2 linked regions of the Homo sapiens genome follow. The protein of the gene in region 1 purifies or fractionates together with the protein of each later gene. This does not show direct contact. Each region holds a gene or a part of one and is shown on either strand. Other genes may lie near its edges. The genes, in order: KLHL25 and FBXL17.

What was found.
Region 2: the proteins of KLHL25 (region 1) and FBXL17 purify together in Homo sapiens (co-immunoprecipitation; one large-scale study listed by IntAct). This does not show direct contact.

The regions. Positions count from the first base shown.
Region 1 is NC_000015.10:85,767,264-85,771,081, forward strand, and holds part of KLHL25 (kelch-like protein 25), read right to left. Parts: intron 3,316-3,818; exon of another isoform or gene 3,233-3,315; intron 2,558-3,232; 5' UTR 2,548-2,557; coding exon 778-2,547; 3' UTR 754-777; intron 1-753. UniProt on the Homo sapiens protein: Substrate-specific adapter of a BCR (BTB-CUL3-RBX1) E3 ubiquitin ligase complex involved in various processes, such as translation homeostasis and lipid synthesis.
Region 2 is NC_000005.10:107,878,312-107,882,129, reverse strand, and holds part of FBXL17 (F-box/LRR-repeat protein 17), read left to right. Parts: intron 1-950; coding exon 951-1,093; coding exon of another isoform or gene 1,094-1,267; exon of another isoform or gene 1,268-3,818. UniProt on the Homo sapiens protein: Substrate-recognition component of the SCF(FBXL17) E3 ubiquitin ligase complex, a key component of a quality control pathway required to ensure functional dimerization of BTB domain-containing proteins (dimerization quality control, DQC).

The sequences.
Region 1 (3,818 bases):
CAGGCATGAGCCACTGTGCCCGGCCAGGACTGACTTTCACATTGCCCAGGCTGGTCTTGAATTGGGCTCAAGCCATCTGCCCACCTCAGCCCTCCTAAAGTGCTGGGATTATAGGCATGAGCCACCATGCCCGGGCCTGGTTGGCAATCTTCATACATATCATCACTCATCAGTGCCAGGAGAGTAACACTGTCCTGACTCCATGGGGAGGGGGCCATTCTCCTGGACTCTGCCTTAGTACATGTCTCTTCCCTTGGCTTATCTTAATCTGTATCTTTCCCCTATAATAAACTGTAACTGTGAGCATAACAGCCTTCAGCGACTTCTATAAGTCTTTCTGGCAAAATTGACCGAGGGTGGTTTGGGAGGCCCCCTTTGTTGCACCTGGTGTCAAAAGTAAGAGCAGGCTTGTGTGGAGACTGCACCCTCAGACTCTGCAGGTTGACCTATGCTCCACACAGCACTGTCAAAAGGTCCCTGGGTGATTCTGAAGTATAACCATGTTTGGGAACCACCATGTTGGTCTAACCATGGTTACTGTCCCCATTTTGCAGACTGGTTCAATAATTTGCTCCAGGTTAACTGCAAATAGAAGGCAGAGCCAGGATTTGACTCCAGAGCACACCAGCCACCTGCTGCCCACCCAGACTTCCCTGGAAGACACGGTGACCTTCACCCAGTGGGAAGAGGTGGGACTGCATTCCCCCATGACCTTTCCGGACCCAGAGTGGCCGTGGGCTGCCAGGGACTCACCTGGCTGGGCTCAGCAGGTGCTCCTCACGCGGGCAGGTGCTTCCAGGTGCTGACAAAGGCCGTGGGGATAAGTGAGTAGGGCACTGTGGTGATGCAGTTCCATGTATCTGAAGTGGGGTCATAGCAGTCCAGAGTCTTACACCTCTGGGTCCCAAAGTAGCCCCCGACCACATAGAGCTTGTTGCCGGAAGCCAGGGCATGGCAGGACATGCGCTTGGCAGTCATGTCCCCAATCCGCGTCCACTGGTTGGTCTCACAGTCAAAGCGGTAGGCCGAGGCGGCTGTGAATTCCGTGTCACCTCCCATGATGAAGATCTGGCTGCCCAGGACGGCAGCGGCTGTGTACCGCCAAGGCTGGGGGCACTCGGCCTTGATCGTCCACCTGTTCTCCGAGGGGTCATAGCACTGGACCTTGGACACCATGTCCCGGTGGATGCTGGTTCCTCCGAAAACAAAGAGCTTCAGCTTGGCACTCACCACTGCGGCATTGCTGACGCCATCCCGCAAGGGGGCCACCATCATCCACTTGTTGGCCCCAGGGTCGTATTTCTCCACTTGTTTCAGGGAGACAGAAGGCGAGGCCGGGAAGACCCCTGCCAGGGATGTGTGTCCCCCCACCACATAGAGGCAGTTCTCCAGCTCAGCTGAGCCATGGCCAAAGCGGGCAATCAGCATGGGCGCCGCCTTGGACCATTCCTCATGTACGGTGTCGTACACCCAGACATCCTTGGAGACCCCGTTCTCGGAGCCCCTGCCCCCCGTCACATAGACCTTGCAGCCGATCGCTGAGGCGCTGAACTCCTTCCGGGGGCTGGGCAGGTCGGCCTTGGGGATGATCTCCTTGGCCTTGTGGTCCACCTGGTAGATCTTGTCACACATGAAGGTCTGGCCCCCCAGGATGAGTAGCGTGTGGCCCGCCTTGCGTGGCCGGGCACAGGGGCTGGTGACCACGCCATCATTCTGCAGGATCCTGGTCTTGCAGCGCAGGGCCTCATCCATGATAAGCTTGGTGCGCTCGTCTGCCATGAGGAGGGCCTCGCTGGAGACGGCCTCCTGCAGGCAGTCGGACGGCAGCAAGGCCAGACGCACGCTGCGGAGGAGCTCGGGCAAGTGGACCTTCCGTGGCTCCAGGTCGTGCTTCACCCACTGGAGGATGGCCTCGAAGACCACCCGCTCGTCCTCGGTCTCCAGCTCATCACTCGAGATGAGGTCCAGCAGTGTGTCCTTGGACAGGCTGTTGAAGTCCTCGCTCTGCCTCACCGTCTCAAAGTGCACCAGGCACATGCGCCAGGAGAACTCATACAGCCGGCGGCACTGGTGGGCGTCCGAGAGCAGCATCATGCCCAGGCAGTTGGAGGGGAAAAGGTTCTTCTCCAGGAACTCGGCGGCAGCATCCCGCACATCGTGGAACTGCAGCATGTCGCCTGCCTCCAGCAGTGACTCAGCGTTCTCCTCGTTGATGGCGATGCGTGAGGAGTAGGCAAAGTCCAGCAGCAGCTCCAGCACCTCCGGGTGCAGGTTGTCCTGGAAGTTGACAGTGTCATCCCGGCTCTCCCGAAGGCCATGGCTGAACATGGCCTCAAAATAGCGGCTAGAGGCGGCCAGCACGGCACGGTGACAGGGGAAGGCACGGTCGCCCGCCCAGAGTGTGACGTCGGTGAACATGCAGTGCTTGCGAAGCGTGTTGAGGTGGGCCAGCACACAGTCCGGGTGGGAGGCCTTGTGGAAGAGGGTGACGTTCATGGACCCCGTGCTGCTCCGCGACTTGCGGGTCTCATGGACACTGACCGACATGGTGCGTCAGCTTGTGGGGGAACAAGCCCACAGGTTAGAGGAGCCCCTCCTGCCCATCTGCCCTCTCAGGGCTCACTCTTCAGCACAAGCCCCCTTGTCCCCTCCCACCCACTCTCTGCTCACCTCTGCTAAACCAAGCCCCTCTCCCGCAACCACGTTGCCAAGGACAACACAGGCAAGAGTGGCTGGGTCTCACCCTGCCCTGCAGAAACTGGTTTTGTTCTCAGGGTATGAGCCAGCTCTGGGACAAACATCTCTGGCCTGCAGATGAGCCACCCCCTAGGCAAGCTCCAGTTGAGGCTGCCTCCCATGGTTAAGAGAACATGCAAACGGTGTTCCTGACTGAGGCTGGTGTCCGGGCAGTGCTAAGTAACTGGTGCCTTTGACCACATTCCACTCTCATGACAGTCCTCTACAGAAGCTTCTCTTGTAAGTCCCATTTTAGAGCTAGGGAAGCCACAGCTCAGAGAGGCCAAGAAACTACCCAAACTGCCACAGCCAGGATTCTCACATGGGCTGTCCGGCTCTGGAGCCTGATCTCTGTTCAAGGTGACTAATCCCTGCAGGGTTTGCTGTGGACGCCCAAGCAGAGCCTCACGTACCCACTTCCCTGCTCCCAGCAGGCTCTGCCCTGGGCCGGGCTCCAAGCGGTACTGGCTAGACATCCCCCTTGCCTTGGAACAAGAGCCGCCATCAAGGCCCAAGTGCTCAGTGGAGACATGTTCTCTGAATCCAGGTGTCTCCACAGGGCTCTTTACCTAGCTGGGGCAAGTGATGGCTTGGAGGTGGGGCCGCCAGTGACTCACCCTCGAGACCAACGCAGAGGCCCAAGATGACAGCAGGACATGCCGAACCCTAACGGAAGTGATCCAGATTTGCCTCAGCAAAGCAGAGAAACACGAAGCCAGAGCTTCCCAGGTCCCCCAGCTGACGCCAGGATCCTGGGCCAACGCAGCGCCTCCCCTGCCTCCCTTGCCTGCCCTTCTCCACCAGGCCTGGGGACCTGGCGCTCAGAGTGATGGAGTGATGGCCAAGAAACAGGTTCACTACTTGCTCAATCTAGGGGAATTCTAAAGCACTGTCATTAATGTCCAGTGAATGGCATGACCCGAGGCCCCAGTTCAGTACTTTGAACTCAAGGCTCAGCCAACAGGCGGCAAAACTCATATACCTAGAGAAAACATGGCCAACACCCTTGAGGCCATCTCGAAGACCACAGCTACCTGCCCCACTGACCTGTGGAAGGAGACTGTATTCACCAAGTCTCCCGA
Region 2 (3,818 bases), on another chromosome or scaffold:
TTTTCAGGGTTTTGATTCACAAACCAGTGCACCATAAACTGGTGCTGGGGTATTGAAATTTGTTTTCTGGGCTCCTTAAATATAAAGGTGGGCACATTTATCAAAGTCGGTAGAAAAGAGCCACATTCACCACTTGGTCGCTGTGATGGGGTGATGGGTTATGGGACTTTGCAGTGATTAGTAGTGCACATCATAGATTATGGGATAAGTGTCTGCACTTTAGTGGTGGTACAATGCTAAACAGCCGAGAAGACTACAGATACTCTCATAGTTTACAGACGACAGGCTTCATTTTGTATGTTAATAGAAGGAAGACTTCTGATAGGATGAGGAAATTCACCATAACAAATGCATTCTGTTTACTGCACTCTAGCATGGCACCAATTAAAATCAGCAGTATGTATGATGTACTCTTAATTCCTAACAGTCCCAAGAAGCGCTAATGTGAAAAATATTTTATACTTTTACATTTTACAGGTCATGAACAGATGGAAAAAATTATGCCAATTGGTAAAGACATTCACTTGCAGTATAACACTCCTCAAAATGGTGTTTACGTGGGTTCTTCTTTAAAAAAAAATTAAAGTTATCTTGGGTAAAATTAAGTTAGTACTTGGGTTTTTTTAAATGTTGTATCTGTAATACATTTTAATTTATTCCTTCTGCAGAGCTGAATGTTTGAAAGTACAGGTAACCTTGTAATGAATAAAACTGATAAAAGGTTGTGTTCAATGAAAGGGAAATTATGGAATGATTATTCACTTTGCAAATGGGTTTGTCATAGGGAAGCTTTCCTAAAGCATTTCAAATTTAGTTTAGTTTATAAAACGTTCATTTACACACAAAATTTCAGGAACAAATTTAGTGAGGAAATGAGATGAATAGTCATAATAAGATAGAGCTCCCTTACACTGCTAACATTAATGCTTTCTCTGCGTCCCTTCTTGCAGCACTGATAGCCATTGGGCGATACAGCATGACAATAGAGACTGTGGATGTCGGATGGTGTAAAGAAATCACAGACCAAGGAGCCACCCTGATTGCACAGAGCAGCAAGTCTCTGAGATATTTGGGGCTGATGAGATGTGATAAAGTAAGAGTTGACTATCAAGTTGTTTGCTTTCTACATATCAGTATAGTTAATAGCTTGATGTCATATCCTCTCTCCTTCTCTATCTCCACCCCCGTGTATTATATATTATATATACATTTTATATGTATATATGCAATTATAGCTATGCATTGTTTGCCTGCTTTTGTAAACTAATCTGAGATTATCTTTGTATTTCCCCACTTAATAATGAATTTTGTGCTTAAGTAGAAAGAAAAAGTAATCATATACATAGTCAACTAGAGTTTGGCATCCTATTCATAAGTCCATGGACCAAAATGTAAAAGATTACATGACAAACTGCAATTTGCAGGGTCTAACCGTAAAATTGTATTCTGGGTTTCAAGTTTCCAGCAACAGTAAAGGTGGAAAGAACAGTGCCAAATTGGTTTTTCACAAGTGTGTAATTTTGGTACTGAACATCTATGTATTCTGGCCATTCGGGACCAACAAAGGGCCAGTAAGGGGGTATGTGGGAATTTGCATCTCCCCATACATCAGATGCCACTCCCAGCACATGATAAGAAGTGGTTCCAGAGGTCCTGGTGGAAGGCCTGTAGAACCAGCCAGGGATGTGAGCATGAGTTTAGGAAATGGTGTAGCATTTAACGTGGGACCCTTTGAAGACTGAGAAAACAGATAATAAAAATCTATACTGACACCTGTAATCCCAGCACATTGGGAGGCCAAGGCAGAAGGATCACTTGAGCCCAGGAATTTGAGACCAGCCTGGACAACATGGGAAAACCCTGTCTCTATCCCCCTCTCCCCCAACAAAAAAAAATTAGCCAGGCATAATGGCACACACCTGTAGTCCCAGCTACTCGGGAAGCTAAGGTGGGAGGATCACCTGAGCTCAAGAGGCCGAGGTTGCAGTGAGCCGTGATTGTGCCGCAACCACCTCAGCCTGGATGACGGAGCACGACTGTGTCCCAAACAAACAAAAAAAACCTATACTGGACACCAGGCACTCCACAGGTGTTTTCTTCTTTGTTTATTCCATGTTTTACCTATAACAAGTCTAAGAAATAGTTATTTGCATTGTGAAGGGGAGAAAATGGAGGCTCAGAAAGACCAGTCAGTGGCCCCAGGATACTCTGGCAAGACTTCATGCCGGGTCTTTGGAGTCTGTATCCAGTGCTGCTGGCACAACCCAGGGGGCAGTCTGTGGCCACGGGGACTGCTTCCCTTGGAAAAGGTCCAGTTCAGATACTTGCTCAGAAAGTGCCGCCATCTTGTACTAATTTACACATGTGTGCTACTTTTGTAAATGGTGATTAGGAACAAATCTAGCAAAATAATGTGAAACTAAATAGACACGCCATTCAAAGGGCATGCATCTTCTAAATGTAGCAAATGTGGGGGCAAATGAAGTATGGCCCAAAGCTCTTGTGTCCTTTGTGATTTTTTGTTAATTGGCTAATTCTTTTCTCCAAACACTTTAGAATCCCAACTTATACGAGACCTTTGCCAGCTAGTTATGTTTAGAGAAATGTTATTATATATTCTCAGCCCAGCCCAGAAGCGACTTACTTTGTAACTAAGCAACAGCACTGAGATCCGGGGCTTGCGAGTCTCCCACAAATCTTTCCACTAACCAACCTAATGCCGCTGCTAACCCTGCCACTTTAAAATGACTTCTTTTAAGACAAGTTAAAGGGTCCACCATAGGCATAGTCCTCTAGAAACAGGAATCAATGACAGCAGAACTCCTCAGCTTCCAGCAGAAGGAACTGCCACATGAATGCTAACTAAAGCTACCAAAATGTACACATTCATACATATGTGTCCGCAGCCATTCTCAGAAATTGTCATATTTCTAACCTGTAATCTTTAGATGGTTAAGATCAGCTCCATCTTCGGAGATACACTGTAGAAGTTGTATGTTACAGTTACTACAGGAGAATGTTATTCCAGACATATTTGCTGACCAGCATTTTGCTGATTTTTAGTTAAGAAATGGGTTATTTTCTACCCAAATGCAAATTAGTCCAAAATTAAATAGAGACAGTATTCAGATTAGCTGTATCCCTGAGGGTTTTAGCCCTTTTCCTGGGCTGCCTCTGAATCCTTTCTCTAACCAGAGAGCCACTCTGAGAACCCATTGGCTCCAGCACGACGCCGTCTGGTCAGAGCCTGCTGCAGTGCAGCCCAGGGAGATGCTGGACCCAGCCTTGCTGTCTGGCTTCCTCAGACTTAAAGCAGCTCAGAGCCAAACACGAGAGGCTCTGTGAGGATGGAAGACAGTTCCAAACCACACACAAAGCACAAGTAAAGCCTTGCACAGAAAAGCCTGCTTGTTGGTTTAGTTGGATGGAAATCTAAAGTAGCTATTCAGTTTTCAGATTTTGTATCATGCCATCCATCTCCAGATTTTAAGTTACCATCAAGATTCAAAGGAAGATATGAGTAACAAAGAAAAGAAATTAGTAGCAACGGTATGGTCTGCGGAGAGCCAGAGTTCAGGTTCAGATCTGGGCTTTGCACTTACTAGTTGTGTCACCGCGGGCAGTTACTAACCTCTCAGTGCCTGTTCCCTCGTTTGCAAAATGAGGATGATACTAGTACCTATCTTGTAGAATTGTGAGCATGTGAATGAGTTAACATACATAAAGCACTTAGAATAATGTCTATTATATATAAAATGCTCTGTTACTGATTAGTCTTATCATCCATATCATTATATTAACCTGTGTTGTGATACTGG